Regions from separate parts of the Homo sapiens genome. Here regions 1 and 3 are each linked to region 2. The links come from fine-mapping of genetic effects on gene expression. A gene starts in region 2. Each other region holds a variant in brackets. All regions are shown on one strand. Distances are between the middles of the regions. Region 1 has its middle 8.8 kb from the start of NMI. Region 2 holds the start of TNFAIP6 (TNF alpha induced protein 6). Region 3 overlaps NMI (N-myc and STAT interactor).

The links. PIP is the estimated chance that this variant, and not a neighbour inherited with it, causes the effect. A credible set is the group of variants that fine-mapping cannot tell apart.
Region 1: its variant is the best candidate, but not a certain one, in a credible set for the expression of TNFAIP6 in whole blood (TOPMed, PIP 0.64).
Region 3: its variant is the best candidate, but not a certain one, in a credible set for the expression of TNFAIP6 in whole blood (INTERVAL, PIP 0.84).

What each region holds. Positions count from the first base shown.
Region 1 is chr2:151,295,489-151,301,485 of GRCh38, reverse strand. No RefSeq gene overlaps it. Among named protein-coding and RNA genes, the nearest start is that of NMI, 8.8 kb to the right of the region's middle. The variant C/A (reference allele first, on the strand shown) is at 3,312.
Region 2 is chr2:151,354,596-151,360,592 of GRCh38, reverse strand. TNFAIP6 (TNF alpha induced protein 6) reads right to left here and starts at 3,001. Exons shown (of 6, transcript NM_007115.4): 1 at 2,833-3,001. The coding sequence starts at 2,926. All of the region lies in intron 2 of LOC101929319 (a long non-coding RNA gene), which reads left to right.
Region 3 is chr2:151,278,280-151,284,276 of GRCh38, reverse strand. It overlaps NMI (N-myc and STAT interactor), which reads left to right. Exons shown (of 8, transcript NM_004688.3): 2 at 1,323-1,409; 3 at 2,234-2,329; 4 at 5,287-5,449. The coding sequence starts at 1,329. Among named protein-coding and RNA genes, the nearest start is that of NMI, 8.4 kb to the left of the region's middle. The variant G/A (reference allele first, on the strand shown) is at 3,610.

The sequences.
Region 1 (5,997 bases), 59 kb after region 2:
ACTCTCGAAGTGATTTGGGGGATTGCAGTGTGATATATGTATAATAGTTCCCAATCATTTAGTCAATTAACCTTTATTAATACACATAGGATAAAAGATTGCCTGAGAAGGGCACCGTATTAGTGAGGGTTCTCAAGAGAAACAGAACCAATAGGATATTTATAGATATATGGAAAGAGATTGATTGTAAGAGATTGCCTCATGTGATTGTGAAGGTTGAGAAGCCCCACAATCTGCCATCTGCAAGCTGGAGCCCCAGGAAAACCAGTAGAGTAGTTACAGTCCAAGCCCAAAGCCCTGAGAACCAGGAGCTCTGGTGTCCAAGGACAGAAGTAGATGGATGTCTCAGCTCAAGCAGACAGAATAAATTCACCTTTCCTTTGCCTTTTTGTTCTATTTAGGCCTTCAATAGATTGGATGATGCCTGCCCACATTGGAAAGAGCAGATCTCCTTTACTCACTCCACCAATTCAAAAGCTACTCTCTTCTGGAAACACCTTCACAGACATGCCCAGAAATAATGTTTTCCCAGCTCTCTGAGCATCCCACAGCCCAGTCAAACTGACCCATAAAATTAATAACCACAGGCACTATGTTAGACATTTTTGGGAGAAACACAGATACAGCACAACTCTTATTTTGGAAAAGATTACCATCTTTGGGAGAATGAATTGTATAATCGTTCCCCAAAGACAGCAATGCAAGGCTGTAAATGTGCCCAGTAAGTGGTATGGACAAAATGTGCTAAAATAATTTAGAGAATGGAGGGATCACTAGTGGCCCTTGGGTTGCTGGAAAAGGAGCTTAAATTGAGGCTGAAGATGCATCAGCAAAGCCTGACACTGGTGTTCAGTCAGCATGCTCTAGAGGTTTAGACCAGTTGTTAAATAATGAAATATTTTTGTGTCATTTAGTAAGTAGTAGCAGTCTTCCCCCATCTCCATCCTAGCGCCTTCACCAAGCTGGCCATACCTGTTCCTCCACCAGGAATTCCCAACTTCTCTTCCCCTGAACTTCCTAAGATCTAGCAACTGAGGGATTAATGGCCAGCCTAGAAAGAATTCTCTGGGACACTGCTCCAGCACTCTGGTGAGAGCCATTCTCATGGTTCAATGTCCATGCTGAGCAGTTGTGTTTTCACTATCACCACTGCATGTATAGTGTGTGTGTGGGTTTGTTGAAAGTTCACTTGTCTGACTGTATGACTGAAATAATAGAAAGAAAAGAGGAAACAACTTAGGGGAGGAAAATAGTAAGAGAGAGGAGGCCTAGTATGTTCTGGAGTTGGATAGCTGACTAATTCAGTGGGATGTGGAAGGGAGTAATGGCTGATGAAGTTACCGATAAACTGTAGCCAGCCTGTGGTGGAAAGTTTGGTATTGGGAGTGACGGGAGGGAGTGTACATCTTACACTCTGGAATTTGGATTGTATATATGGGATGTCATCTGCAAGCGCTTAACATGTCGAATGACATGATGATACTGACCCTTTTAGAAGAATAATCTGGCACGAGTATACAGGATGAAAGGAAAGAGAATCATTAGCAGGGTAAATTCCAGATGTAGATTAGCCCCATGAAAAGTCCTGCGGGAAATTCAACTATGAATTTTCATGCAAGAGAGTATGGGGAAAAAGAGACACTGGCTGTGGCATGAGAAATGAAACTGGGCAGAATTTTTGAAATCAAGTTTTAAGAAATCTGTGCCATCTGATCACATTGCCCTTTGCAGGAGGCCAGATTAGGTTTGTGGCCACATAAAAGGGGCTGTATGAGCAGCAGAGAAAACAATTGCTGCTTGGTATATCTTCAGAGACTACATCACAAAAAACCCACTCAATATTACCCATCTTTCTTACGTGTACAGTTCATTAAAGAATATGGCAAAAATGGCCAGGCACGGTGGCTCACGCCTGTAATCCCAGCACTTTGGGAGGCGGAGACGGGCGGATCACGAGGTCAAGAGATCGAGACCACCCTGGCTAACACAGTGAAACCCCGTCTCTACTAAAAATACAAAAAAATTAGCCGAGTGTGGTAGTGGGCGCCTGTAGCCCCACCTACTCGGGAGGCTGAGGCAGGAGAATGGCGTGAACCCGGGAGGCGGAGCTTGCAGTGAGCCAAGATCGCGCCACTGCACTCCAGCCTGGGTGACAGAGCGAGACTCCGTCTCAAAAAAAAAAAAAAAAAAAAAAAAAAGAATATGGCAAAAATAAGAGAAACAGAATGAGTGAGAGAGAAAGATCTTAGACTTACTATCTGACTGACTTGTTTTTATGTGTTCTATCTAAATCTAGATCAGCAAACAACTAAGTCTTGGCAGCCCAGAATCCGTTCCTGGCACACACTGCACAATTCGAGGGGACATGAGGAGGCATTGTGTGGTGCCCATCCAGTGTCATTTTATGCAGTTGTCTTGGTGACTGTATTCAGGTCTTGCATTTTATATTTTAACCTATCAAATTATTTTCTCTATGCAACAGTCATCCCTTTCAACTCTTCTAATTATAGCTTAAAATCAGAGGACAATATTAATATTAATAATATTATTTAATTTTGCATTTACTGTTCAAAAAGTATTTTTATGTACATTAGCTAAATTAATCCTCACCAAACACCCTATAATTGGTAGGTAACATTATTGTCATCATTTTTACATTTGAGAAACTGAGAAATGGACCCTCGGAAAGCTAAAGGGAAATGCGATCAGTAGTAACATTTTTTTGAGCACCTATTATATACCAGATCCTTTACATATGCCCAAGTTCACAGAGCTAGTCAGGGTCAAAGCAAAGACTCAGCTTGGTTCTCCTGGTGATTTTAAGGTGGTGCAATTTCCATGACAAACCAGCCTACCAGGTGTTGTTTGTCCACCTGAGAAAACTTCTATTTGAGTATTGGCACCAAAATTAGAGTTCTTATTCTTCAAAAAGTTGAAAAACAGCTGAGGTCAATCTCCCAAAAGGCAACAACGTTTCCATTCCAATTCATAAAGTCGCGAAGCAGTAAGATCTGAAGGACACTGTTTTATTTTTATCGGAGATGAAGCTTGTTTTTATTTACAATTTCCCTGGACGGGTTTAAGCCCTGAGAAGGATGAATTAACTCTGCCTTTGTATATTAAACATTATCAAACATCCCCATGCAGATATTATGTTATTAAAATGAGTCCTGTGTGTGAGATCATTCTATCTTGTTACATTGTACACTAGGGCAAACTATTTAGAATAAATTGAAATGAATAATTAATGAAAGAGAAGAGAATACCTCTTTCAAGTTCCCATATACACTTGCCCTGTTCTTTTTTCTTGG[C/A]TTCTCTTACTTCCTCTTTCCACTCTTTAGTGTCATTTTGACTCATTTCCCCTCACTGTTTATTCCTTCCTTTCCCTCAGAGTAGCTATAATGGCAGCCTAGCTACAAGCAAGAAGCCAATGCTCTCTGAAGGAGATGGCACGAAAGATAGGAACAGCTCTTGCTCTTTCCTCAGGAAAAGCACACCAGGGTGTGGAGACAAAAGGACTCCATTTTGGATGCTGATCTGCCATATTGAGTCCTGATTAGCCCCAGTCCCATGAATGCCTCCTAATTCCTCATTTATTTACTGTCCTTAGTGTAAGAACATGTCAAACCTGATATTATCAGACAAACTATAGGCTATAATGCATATGGCATTCTTGCCTGTTTTGGAGGGTTGCTTTTAATTGTCTTGCTGGAGCACGTATACCCTTTCCCTGTGGTATATAAGCCCTGGGTCTGGGAAGCAACAGTGCAGAGATCTGCCTTGCCGCCACATTTCCATCTTAACTTTCCATTAAAACACTCCTTACTGACGAACTGGATTTGTCTGCCTTGTTCTTTGGTAGCTCAACTCCTTTGGCATTTGGGGGCTGCTTTGCATATACCGCCCCTTCATGAAACACAGGGACACCTAGAAATACCTCACTTTCCGTCTATGGACTCGGCCTCCAGGCTGGAAACAGTAAGAGGGTTCTGCGCTTCGTAATAGCCAGGTGGCACATAAAACCCGTCGACCAGAATGACAATCTCTGGTCATGATTTTAGTGAACCAGTTAGTGTACAGCCTTGTCACTCAAAGTGTAGCCCAAGCGTGTCCGGAATTGGTGGGTTCTTGGTCTCACTGACTTCAAGAACGAAGCTGCGGACCCTCGCAGTGAGTGTTACAGCTCTTAAAGGCGGCATGTCCTGAGTTTGTTCCTTCTGATGTTCGGATGTGTTTGGAGTTTCTTCCTTCTGGTGGGTTCGTGGTCTCACTGGCTCAGGAGTGAAGCTGCAGACCTTTGCGGTGAGCGTTACAGCTCTTAAGGCGGCGCATCTGGAGTTGTTCGTTCCTCCCGGTGGGTTCGTGGTCTCACTGGCTTCAGGAGTGAAGCTGCAGACCTTCTTAGTGAGTGTTACATCTCATAAAGGCAGTGTGGACCCAAAAAGTGCGCAACAGCAAGATTTATTACAAAGAGCGAAAGAACAAAGCTTCCACGCTACGGAAGGGAACCCAAGCAGGTTGCCACTCCTTGCTCCGACAACCTGCTTTTATTCTCTTATCTGGCCCCACCCACACACCCTGCTGATTGGTCCATTTTACAGAGAGCCGATTGGTCCATTTTACAGAGAGCTGATTGGTCCAACAGGGTGCTTACTGGTGCGTTTACAATCCCTGAGCTAGACACAAAAATTCTCCATGTCGCCACTAGATTAGCTAGATACAGAGTGTCCACACAAAGTTTCTCCAAGTCCCCACCAGAGTAGCTACAGAGTGTTGACTGGTGCATTCACAAACCCTGAGCTAGACACAGGGTGCTGATTGGTGTGTTTACAAACCTTGAGCTAGATACAGAGTGCCGATTGGTGTATTTACAATCTCTTAGCTAGACATAAAGGTTCTCCAAGTCCCCACCAGAGTAGCTAGATACAGAGTGTCCATTGGTGCATTCACAAACCCTGAGCTAGACACAGGGTGCGGATTGGTGTGTTTACAAACCTTGAGCTAGATACAGAGTGCTGATTGGTGTATTTACAACCCCTTAGCTAGATATAAAGGTTTTCCAAGTCCCCACCAGACTCAGGAGCCCAGCTGGATCCTGCACGGGGGCCGCAGGTGGAGCTGCCTGCCAGTCCGGTGCCGTGCGCCCGCACTCCTCAGCCCTTGGGTGGTCCATGGGACTGGGTGCGTGGAGCAGGGGGCGGCGCTCGTCGGGGAGGCTCGGGCCCCACAGGAACCCACGGAGGCGCGGGGGAGGCTCAGGCATGGCGGGCTGCAGGTCCCGGGCCGTGCCCCGTGGGAAGGCAGCTAAGGCCCGGCGAGAAATTGAGCACAGCAGCTGCTGGCCCAGGTGCTAAGCCCCTCACTGCCCGGGGCCGCCCGCCGCTCTCAGTGCGGGGCCCGCCAAGCCCACGCCCACCCGTAACTCGCGCTGTCCTGCAAGCACCGCGCGCAGCCCCGATTCCCCCCGCGCCTCTCCCTCCACATCTCCTCGCAAGCTGAGGGAGCCGGCTCCGGCCTTGGCCAGCCCAGAAAGGGGCTTCCATAGTGCAGTGGCGGGGCCAAAGGGCTCCTCAAGTGCCGCCAAAGTGGGAGCCCAGGCAGAGGAGGCGCCGAGAGCGAGGGAGGGCTGCGAGGACTGCCAGCACGCTGTCACCTCTTACAAGAAACAGCACCATCAGCATCATCTAGGAGCTTTTGGAATGCAAAATATCCACCCTAATCCTACAGAATCAGAATGTATATTTTAACATGATCTTCAGCTGATTTATATGGACATGGAAGTTTGTCAAACACTGGTGTACAGAAAGTCTTCTTGCCCAAAAACATATTTTTCCCTATCTTGTAACTATGCCACACATTTCAAGGGAGATCCACAGAAATAATTTATTATATCAAGATATATATTAGGCTGGGCGAATATATATCTTCGTAGATACATATTAATCTATTTTGATAGATTAATTAGGTGGTGGCTCATGCCTGTAATCCCAGCACTTT
Region 2 (5,997 bases):
ATGGACCTTTGTACAATGAATCCTAATTTTACCTTTCAGAAGCAATAATATTTTATTAATTTATCTAGTCAATAGTCATTTATTAAAACTGAAAATTTGTTTAATAAATGTTTTCTCCTTTTAGTGAGTGGCGGCAGTAGAAATGGACTTTGGTTCCACTGCTGTTTCTACCATGGAGTTGTATAACCAGATGAGCCTCAGTTTCCTCATTTGTCAAATGGGACTAATGATAGCTTCTGGACCATAGAAGGAACTCAAGATACGTCACTTTTCCTTTCTTTCTTTTTTTTTCTCTGAGACAAGGTCTCACTCTGTCACCCAGGCTTGAGTGCAGTGGTGAGGTCACGGCTCACTGCAACGTCTGCCTCTTGGGCTCAAGTGATCCTTCCACTTCAGCCTCCTGAGTAGCTAGGACTACAGGCATGCACCACCACACCCAGTTAATTGTGTTTTTTTTGGTAGAGACAGAGTTTCTCTATGTTGCCCAGGCTGGTCTTTTTAATTCCTGGGGTCAAGCAATCTGCCCACCTCAGACTCCCACAGTGCTAGGATTACAGGTGTGAACCACTGCATCCCACCTTCCTTTCCCTTCTTTTTCAGATTCAACAATAAAAATAATTGCTTATCTGTGCATTTTTTATTCTCATGATCCATGTAAAATGATTGTAATTTCTTGTCCTTAACTGTGGTTTGTTTTTGTTTTAAGTACTATTTTAAAAATTAGATGATACCAGAGTTAAAATAAGCCTTAGGGATCCTTTACTTCAACCTTATCATTTTACCAGATTGGAACCATAACCTAGAGAATTTAAAGTAAACTTGTCCAACTTGCGGCCTGCCAGGACGGCTTTGAATGTGGCCCAACACAAATTTGTAAACTTTCTTAAAACATTATGAGTTCCCTGGGCCAGGTGCGGTGGCTCACGCCTATAATCCCAGCACTTTGGGAGGCCAAGGTGGGCGGATCACGAGGTCAGGAGATTGAGACCACCCTGGCTAACATGGTGAAACTCTGTCTCTACTAAAAATACAAAAAATTAGCCAGGCGTGGTGGCGGGTGCCTGTAGTCCCAGCTACTTGGGAGGCTGAGGCAGGAGAATGGCGTGAACCTGGGAGGCGGAGCTTGGAGTGAGCCGAGATGGTGCCACTGCACTCCAGCGTGGGCAACAGAGCGAGACTCTGCCTCAAAAAAAAAAAAAAAAAAAATTATGAGTTGCCCAAGACAATTCTTCTTCCAATGTGGCCCAGGGAAGGCAAAAGATGGGACACCCTAGATTTAAAGTGTCCTGTTCTTGATAGTTGCTAACAGATGTATCCCTTCTAATCCAACTATCTTTCCTTCCTAAATGGTTTCTAAAAAGATTATATTGATCCAACCAACTATAAACATCTGTGCTAGGCTGGCTGGTCAAAAATTTGCCCCAGATTGAAGCAATTTGCAATTATCCTGACCCTCAGATTTGTAGCATACATTAATAGACGTTTGAATTTGCTTCTCTCTACCTCTGGGGCAAAACTTCTATTGTCCAGGTTTATATTTTTGTAACATATGACAACACTTTAAAAGACAACTCTAAATTACTTGATTATTAGAGGGTTTGATAATATTTCAAAGTTTATCTGCCTGGATTTAATTCTTACTAGCTTTATGACATTTAAAAAAAATCCTGACAAATATGAGTGTATTTCCTATATTTGACTGTATTCAACTAAAATAAAGAGATGGGCTCATTCCTCTACTAAATTTCAGATCCCGTCTTGGCCAAATGGATCACAGTGAAATTAGTTCACTGGCTCAAGCTGAAAAAAATAGGCGGCAAGGCTGTGCATTACAAATTAGGCTTTTTAATGAAATCCGCATGGTTGCAGTTATTACCAGAGAGAAACATGCTGAAAGGGAAAATATTCTACAACTGTGCTGTTTAGAAAGCATAAAATCAAAATCTAGGTTAATTTCGCCTTCTCTTTATTTCTTTATTCTATGCAAGAATCTATGCATTTTTCCCCAAGAAATTCAATTTTTTTTTACTATTAAACACAATAATGAACATAGAGCAATATCAATTTGTATCATGAGAATTAAAGCATTGTTTAGCATACTGTAATCTAAGGGGTGTTTTGGATTTTCTGCATTTTCCTTTTTTGATCTATTGTTTATCTTCACTGTTTGGCCTGTCTCATTCCTTACATTTAACAAAACAAAATAACAAAAGAAACTTTCCTTGTCTAACAAAAGGGTCAGAAAAGTATTTATATGGATAGTAGAAACAGAAAGAATCAAAGTGGTAAGAATGCATTCAGAAGGAGAAACATTTTTCACTTTTTTCTGTACTGCAAGCTGGCTTGGTCAAAATAGTCAAAATGTTTGAAAAAACTAAGATATAGACTATAGCTCAGAGTCCATGAAGCAATTATTATAAAATTTTCGTAGACTCCAATTTACCTGTTAGGATTCTGAAATCTGATTGCAAATGCATTGACATAAAAACAGAAGACTATATTGGAGTTTCTAGTTGGTTAAAGAAATACTCCTCACTGTACTACTACATCTGCTTTGAAAAGTTTAAAAATATATTTTCATACTGAATATAAATATTAACTGCTATTTTCTACTGAACAATTCACTTTATAAAATGCTATTTTTAAATTTTAGAGGACAAGAACGCTTAAAAAAAAAAAAGCGTATGTATTCCAAAGGCTATCTTTCCTAAGCATTTTCTTTGAGAACATCAGCCTTGTACAGAATAGAAAAAGTTACTGCTTTAAATTTCCTTCTCCATGATTTAAAGAATTGACATTCTCAACAAGAGGCTCATGAGTGAAGGTTCTTACCAAGCCATATGGAGTTATGAAAAATTCCATCCTTGAATCCCCATCCTTGAGTGTCTTCCCATAGCAAGAGAAATAAGTAAATTAAGATGATCATATCGTCAGTTGTAGTGAAGTAACAGCCTGTTAGGGGCTGCTCACAAATTCTCAGAGCAGTGGCTGAAATGTGACTGAAACATCTGGTTTCCACATCTTTTAAATAGTTTTTTTCAACTGTGAGGTCAGCAAGTACTCTCCAATGGCATTTTCCGCTGTAGAGTTACACAATTATCTCAGTGTCTGAAGCAAATCCTCTGACTCATTTGCATTGGCAACCAAAACTAAGGAGATAGAATGATCATCTATGTTTTAAAATTAACTTACTAAGAACGGAGTTCATTTATTGTTAGTCACAAACACTTTTCTGTTAGAAAGTTTGTGTAACTTGATGCAGATTTAGCAGTGATTAAAAGAAAATCGAACTTCAGTAGGAATTTCAAGATAAATCCTAAATGTCTTATTTGCAGTGTCAATTATGGGATATGGGGTTAAACACTAATCTTTTATTGGTAATGTTGGACTGGCTTTTCTAAACATTGTCAAGCCTGTGTAAAAAATTTAAAACAAAAAGTATGCACAGCTTGGAGAATCCTAATTTTTCTCCAGTGATATATGACTTCCTTATTCTCTGCCTGCTTTTCTTCCAGGGTGGGGTCTGTTGCAGTCTTTGGTGTGTTATGGTCAGCAGCTAAATAAATGTATCAGCTCCCAGAAAAGTATTTCAATTTCAGAGCGTCAGGATGTTCCAGCAGCTTTGGGATGTCCTATTATAACACAGTTTTCCCAGGCCACAAATTCTTGAAGTGTTGGGAGAAAGGTGGGTAGACTAACAAAGTTAATAAAAACTTGTCCCTAGCTTCCCTAGACCACTCTAACTTTGAAGAAGACGATCAAGGTAATAGATAATAATTATTACAGTAAAGTCATCATGTCTTCAAATATCCCAAACTTTCCTCTTCCTTTGTGTAGAATCCTTGGGTAACATATCTGATAATACTCCCACTACCGCTGATGCTAATGGCATTTCCTATTGTTCATTGATAGCCATTTATTGGCAACTTTTGATTTTTTTACAAAATTGGTCATTTTTTGCTACTTAGATTCTCTACTTTTGGTCTCAAATTGCTTCCCATTCACTCCTATTATAGCATTCATTTCTCCCATGCTTTCTTAGTCCCTCCAATGATGTTGGAGTTCTTTGAAAAAGCCAACTTGCTAGACATGCTCTGGTTTGAAGTTAGCTTTGAATCCCTTAGACATCTTTGCTTTGAACATCTCAGGTGTGTTCTGGTCTCATCTCTTCTCAAAAGAGCAGTTATGGGGATGTAGGCTGAGAGTACAGAATTTATTGGATGCTCACTGAGGTATACATAAAGTTACTAGCATTGAAAATCTTTATTTTGGACTGGTGGCACATGAAAGATGAGGGAATTGTATCCAAGTTCACAGATAGGGTTAGTGAATTTAAGTTTGTTGCAAAAGAGAAAGGTATAGTTTAGACCAGGTGGGTGTGACTATGGAGAAGACAGGCATGGTTACTGAGAGCAAGATTCATAGGTAGTTGGAAGGAATAAACCATGATATTTCTTTGGAAAGTATAATTATATGCGTATTTTAAGTTTGTGGTTTAGGAAGTAAATATAACTTTAGTTGTGCAGTGCTACAGCAAAACCTTCCCATAGTCTTTCCAATTCTTTTCTTGTCACATCCTCCAGCTGTGCCCTTTCTGCATCTCTCTCAAGCACCTAATTTCCCCCTAGTTCTCATTTATCAAAAATTACTCTCAGGAAAGGGTTTGCAATTAATCTTTAGTTAGGCCAGATAACTAAGAACAGATACCCTTCTGTGTTCATTTGCATTTTAATGAAGCTCCAAGTAGAGCGAAGTGTGAATGTTCAACTTCTTTTAACACGAAAATTTAATGAGTTGCTTTGATGAATTAACCCGATCTGGGGTGGAGGATTTCTTTCTCCCCTCTCCCAACTCTCATGCAGAATATAAATATTTCCCCTTACCTCTGCATAGTGTCTGAAAATCTCATCCTCCATATCATCAAGGAAATAGAGAATAATGCCTAATGATGTAAGTTCTGATTTTGAGGGGCATTCAATAAAGGAAAGAGGAAATGGGGTTTTCATATGGAAAAGATGCAGAGGGTAATCCTGAGGACGAGAGAGAAGAAAAGAGAGAGTAGCAAAGGAAATGTTGCCTATGAACTTACCTTGGAAGTTGTCTAAGAAGCACCCTCTGCCCAGCCTCCAGCACACACCACCCAGGATAAGCCTCATGAGGAGCTGAGAGAAGATACACTGATAAAAGTTCCTTTCAGGCCGGATGCAGTGGCTCATGCCTGTAATTCCAACACTTTGGGAGGTCGAGGCAGGAGGATCACGAGGTCAGGAGTTTGAGACCAGCCAGACCAATATGGTGAAACCCCGTCTCTACTAAAAATACAAAAATTAACTGGGTGTGGTGGCTTGCTTCTGTAATCCCAGCTACTCAGGAGGCTGAGGCAGGAGAATCGCTTGAACCCGGGAGGCGGAAGTTACAGTGAGCCAAGATCGCGCCACGGCACTCCAGCCTGGGTGCCAGAGCCAGACTCCATCTTAAAAAAAGAAAAAAAAAGTTCCTTTCAAGGTTCTGGAAGACTTAACCAGTCAAGTATTTTGCCTTCTCAGAGGAATGCCCTCCCCTTCCACTATCTCTGGGTCAAGATGTGCAGTGGCTCCTTTCGCACATATCACCACTAGCTGAAAACCCAGCAAGACTGCTTTTTGTAGAGGAGTTCCTGTTTTGGTTGCTTTTCTACAATGTTCCAATGCCCGTAAGCCTAAGCAGCTATTAGATACCTAAAGGCATGGTGGAGAGAACTCCATATCTGAATTGGGATAGGGCTGCACTGAACAAGCTTAAGATCTCTTAAGCTGCCACGATAGTTAATGATGTCACTATTGCACAAAGTTAACTGAAAAAATGAGACACTAGCCAGTGTGGTGGTGTGTGCTTGCAGTCCCAGCTATTCAGGAGGCTGAGGCAGGAGGATCACTTGAGCCTAGGAGTTGGAGGCTTCAGTGAACTATGATCATATCACTACACTATAGCCTGGGCAACAGAGCGATATGCTGTCTC
Region 3 (5,997 bases), 76 kb after region 2:
TACAAAGTAAATCAATTGTATTGAAATATGACTGGGATTATAGGCACCTGGCACCACGCCCAGCTAATTTTTTTTGTATTTTTAGTAGAGACGGGGTTTCACCATGTTGGCCAGGCTGGTCTCAAACTCTTAACCTTGTGATCCACCCGCCTTGGCCTCCCAAAGTGCTGGGATTACAGACATGAGCCACCGCGCCCGGCCAGAAATCAATTGTATTGAAATATGGTTATCAGAATATTTAAAAAGCAAATGTTTGATATAGTGATATATATCAATGTATTACAATATATTACAAGACCTAGTGGTGAGGTTAGTAACTAATGTAGAAGCAATGTTAAACACAAACTATTTTAGCATATCTGCAACAATATTCTATGAAACTATCTGTGCTTTCTATTGGTGACTATCACAGGTGCTGTGAATACTACTGTAGTTTGTTACCATATTCATAATTGAAGAGAATGCTAAGCTTCAATTAGAGGTTATTAGAAATAAACATATAATTTCTTCCCAATCCATGTTTATGGACCCAGCAGGAGAGTTAGTGAAAGCTTCAGGTAAGAACACCTGCGTAGAGAAAGCATATGTTGGAGGCCTCTTGACTTTGTTTACATTTGGGGAGAACAATAGGGAGAATTAAATATTTTAATCAAAAACTTTGAAAAACGTTGGAAAACCAAAATAGTATTCATTTAAAATGGAGCATGATATTATGGTTGGAATGTGAACTACAAAGGAACATTAATGTTCATTACTTTCTATATATTATTTTGTTGAAAAGCAAAGGATTTTTAGAATCTTTTTATATATTATAGGTGTGAAAGTTATTTGAAATATTGGCCAGGTGCTGTGGCTCACGCCTGTAATCCCAGCACTTTGGGAGGCCGAGGGGGGTGCATCACTTGACAAGAGTTCAAGACCAGCCTGACCGACATGGTGAAACCCCATCTCTACTAAAAATACAAAAATTAGCCGGGCATGGTGGCAGGTACCTGTAATCCCAACTACTTGGGAGGCTTGAGACAGGGGAATCACTTGAACCTGGGAGGCAGAGGTTGCAGTGAGCCAAGATCGCACCATTGCCCTCCAGCCTGGGCGACAGAGAGAGACTCTGTCTCAAAAAAAGAAAAAAAAAAGGAGTTATTAAAATACAGACTTTGTTTGGATATAAGCCATATGATAATAAAGCCTTTGATGATGGGAAAAAAAGATATAGCAAAGAAGAGATGTTTCTTCCATAAAAGGGTAAAAGTTCTTATTTCTTTGTTCTTAAATTTGTGTATATATGCTATGCTTATAATATTTATTTTTTATAATATTAGGGGATCATGGAAGCTGATAAAGATGACACACAACAAATTCTTAAGGAGCATTCGCCAGATGAATTTATAAAAGATGAACAAAATAAGGTAAAAAGGAAATTACTGGGTATTATTAAAAATTATTTTATATCTATTAGTTTTGCAGTAAGGCATGTTTTGTATGTCTTTGTCCAACATTACCTTGAATTTGGGAGGCCGTTAGGCTTTAAAAAAATTTTTAACTTCCATTATGTTATTTAAGCCTTACAAGAAGTGTCATATTTTTATTCTTTCTCTTATAAGGCTTACAACACTAGCTGCTTTCTCACTCACACCCTCATTTCTTGGATTTGCATCAACAAGTTAAGAGCATAGTCAGCAATTATCTCATTAGACCCCAAGAGGGAACGGAGGCCCAGGTAGCTTAAACCACTTCCCCAAGGTCATATGTCTGGCTCATTAAGGTAACTGTGTACTATGCGATACTATGGGAATCACAGATAATTAAGAACAAAAACAACAACAACACCAACAACAAACTGCCCCAGAATATGTCCGCTATTACAGTGCAATTTAAAAGTCTTATCATGCTCACAAATAGCTAGGAAAGGAGTTGATGCAGCACTGAAGTAATATTCAGAAGATCTGATCTCAATCTTTGCCTTACTATACAACTTTCTGTGACTTCGGTCTAGTGTAAAAGGTGGTTTCCTGATTTATATAATGGAGATAGTACTACTTGGCAATGTTAGAATAGACAGGTGATGATGTAAAATATTCAACAAATGCATTATTCACATAGTCATATTTATTCTGAGACTGTCTAATGTCTTTCTTTGGTCAGGATGAGAGAAATTTATAGTCTTTAGTTCATTCGGAAAAATGAGTTCAGGGGCTATTTACTTTCTTTGGTACCATTTGATATTTTTAAGGGACTAATTGATGAAATTACAAAGAAAAATATTCAACTAAAGAAGGAGATCCAAAAGCTTGAAACGGAGTTACAAGAGGCTACCAAAGAATTCCAGGTACTCTCTTAATTATTTTATATACTACATTTTTGATGGATGCATGGTTTTTGGAAAAAGCATTTTAATTACACAAAATTCATTTTTAAAACCTTATCATCATCCATGGCACCACCATTTGTAATAGTTCAAAATGGAAAACAACCCAATGATTCCTTCATAGTAGAACGAATTAGTGAATTGGGGTATAGTCATATGATAGAAAACTACACAGCAATGAGAATGAACAGATCATAATGACATGCAGCAACACAAATGAGTTTCATAAACACAATGTTAACACAAAAAAGACAGAAGAGGGCATACCATATGCTTCCCTTTAAATTAAGCAAAAGCAGGATGTTTGAAGTTAAAACAGTGGTTATTTTGGAAGCAGGTAAGACCCAGAAGGGAACCCAAGGGGGTTTCTGGGGTGTTGTCATGTCCTGCCTATCATCTGCGTGCCAATCACGTGTGTTAGCTTTGTAAAATTTCATCTTGCTGTACTTAATGATACATGCATTTTTCTATTATTTACGTACACTTTAATAAATTTACAAAAACAAAAAATTAATAAAATTTACCAAAAAAAGATGGTCATTAGCAAATTACTGTTGGATCAAATTCTGGCTTTTCTCACTGAGTTCTTTTATAATTCTTCTCATCCAAGGTGCTTTGGTAATTTAGATGAGTTTCACGGTTCAAAAAATTGGACATATATTAATCCTCACCATTTAAATTCTCTCCTAAATTTTCCTGTATTTTAATTGTACATAATTTTCACCCATTTTTTTTCTTAACAACTCAGATGTTAAAAAATTAAAGCATTGAGGCTGGGCGCGGTGGCTCATGCCTGTAATCCCAGCACTTTGGGAGGCTGAGGCGGGTGGATCATGGGGTCAGGAATTCACGACCAGCCTGGCTAAGATGGTGAAACCCTGTCTCTACTAAAAAAGAAAAATTAGCCAGGCATGGTGGCGGGTGCCTGTATCCCAGCTACTTGGGAGGCTGAGGCAGAGAATTGCTTGAACCTGGGAGGCGGAGGTCGCGATGAGCTGAGATCACACCACTGTGCTCCAGCCTGGGCGACAGAGCGAGGCGCCGCCTAAAAAAAAAAAAATTAAAGCATTGACACTTCTTGTTTCTGAAGTGGGAGATAGGATATTGAATATCAGGAAGTGAGGTTTTCTGTGTTTATGAGATGGGTGACTTTGTGCAGAAGACTCTGTTAAGATTCTGGTTACTTCTCAGACTGGAGCTAGAATCATGCAGTCTTATAACTCAAAGAGCCTTTAGAAACC[G/A]GCCAGCCCTAGTCGACCCACTTTGCAGAGGACCAAACCTGTGATCAGAGAGCTTAAGTAAATTTGCTGTCTGTCGCAGTGTGGTCAGAAATAGAATCAAGCTTTCTCACTCTAATTTCAGAAAGCCCTTGCTCCTCAGCATATACTGGGTATTTCTGCATTATTGGGTAACACTCTGCCTTTACTCAGACATTGTAGACTGTTTTGATGTCAGCCTTACCGTAATCAGAAGTTCCACTGGAGTTATGCATAAAGGCAAAGAATAAATGTAAGATTAAATTGAATGACTCACTGAATATTTCTAATCTCTGTGTTATTTTCAGCATGTAAAATAACCATGGGCAATAGAAATGCAAGCATCTATCTCATTTGTGCATTTATGTGTAGTTATATGAATCTGTTAATCCCAATAATTCTAAGCAGCTAAGTATAACCACCTACCTTTATCTTTCAGGTTACAATTTTTTTTTTTGAAACAGAGTTTTGTTCTTGTTGCCCAGGCTGGAATGCAATGGTGCGATCTCGGTTCACTACAACATCCGCCTCCCTGGTTCAAGCGATTCTCCTGCCTCAGCCTCCTGAATAGCCAGGATTACAGGCGTTTGCCACCACGCCCAGCTAATTTTTGTATTTTTAGTAGAGATGGGTTTTACCATGTTGGCCAGGCTGGTCTCAAACTCCTGACCTCAGGTGATCTGCCTGCTTTGGCCTCCCAAAGTGCTGGGATTACGAGTGTGAGCCACCTGTGTAGCCTCAGCTTACAATTTCTGTTGATACTGTCCCTTCTCATTTTTTATAAACCTAAGTTGTGGTAATGGTTAAAAAGTTGATGGGCAGGTGTTGGGGAAGGTGGAATTTTTAAATTTGATAAATTTAACATCATCTAATTCTGGGCCAGGTGTGGTGGCTCACGCCTGTAATCCCAGCGCTTTGGGAGACCAAGGCAGGCAGATCATGAGGTCAAGAGACCATCCTGGCCAACGTGGTGAAACCCTGTCTTTGCTAAAAATACAAAATACAGAAATTAGCTCGGTGTGGTAGCGCATGCCTGTAGTTCCAGCTACGCGGGAGACTGAGGCAGGAGAATTGTTTGAACCCGGGAGGTGGAGGTTGCAGTGAGCCGAGATCACACCACTGTACTCCAGCCTGGCAACAGAGTGAGACTCTGTCTCAAAATAAATAAATAAATAAATAAAATTATCTAATTCTAGAGTCTTTCTTTTTGGATGAAATTATCTGGATTTGAAATACCATATTATACCCAACACTATATTTCATACTTTGCAGCAAAATTAAACATACTATCTAATGATTTCCTTTTGAGATAGTCTATTATTGGCACTTGTTTAAAAAGTCCTTATTCACATGAATGATGTAGGCTTTAGAACTGAACACCATACAATATTGACAGTTTAAACATTGATTAGAAAAAAGTGAGAGGATTATATATTTTTAATTTCATCTGTGAAATGATATTAAAAGATCAGCATTTGATTACTGAGTACTTACATGGGAAAAAGCAATTACTAAAAATGTTAAATAAGACCATACTCAATATTCTACAAGGTTCTAAAATTAGTGGGGAATGAATTATTGGATGACCAAATTACATTATCATTGGAAGGACTTAAGTTATTTCTCGTCTTGATTTTAATCAAACATTTTCATTTGGATTAGATTAAAGAGGATATTCCTGAAACAAAGATGAAATTCTTATCAGTTGAAACTCCTGAGAATGACAGCCAGTTGTCAAATATCTCCTGTTCGTTTCAAGTGAGCTCGAAAGTTCCTTATGAGATACAAAAAGGACAAGCACTTATCACCTTTGAAAAAGAAGAAGGTATGACTAATGTTAAAAAATATGACCATGTTATTTGGAAAGCACTTTCATAGACATTTAGCTATTACTTCGCTAATATTACTTCACTTATATTATTTCTTATCCTCATAGTGACGTTCTGAGGCAGGTATGATTATTCCCATTTTACAGATGAGAAAACTGACTCTGAGACAAGTGCCTTGAATATGATCTTGTATTCAGAAAGCCATGACTGTGGGACTTAATCCAGGTGCTATGATGATGTCCAATACCAGCCTCTTTCTACTCCACATGCTACCTCCAAATAATGATAGTAATATTTCAAGGTAGTAGAGCTGTACAGTTCTCAGAGACATTATCACATTTTATACTCACACAATTCCATAAATATAGGAGGATAGGATAGTTATTATTGTGTACTTTAAATATAGACATGCCAGAGCCAAGAAAACAGATTCTGAGGATGTTTAAGTGATTTACCTAAGGGAACATAGCCAACGAATGAGAAGAGCCTGGGAGCTAGAGATTTGGAATGAAACCTAATGTTTGCTAAGTCTGCCATGGTGAGG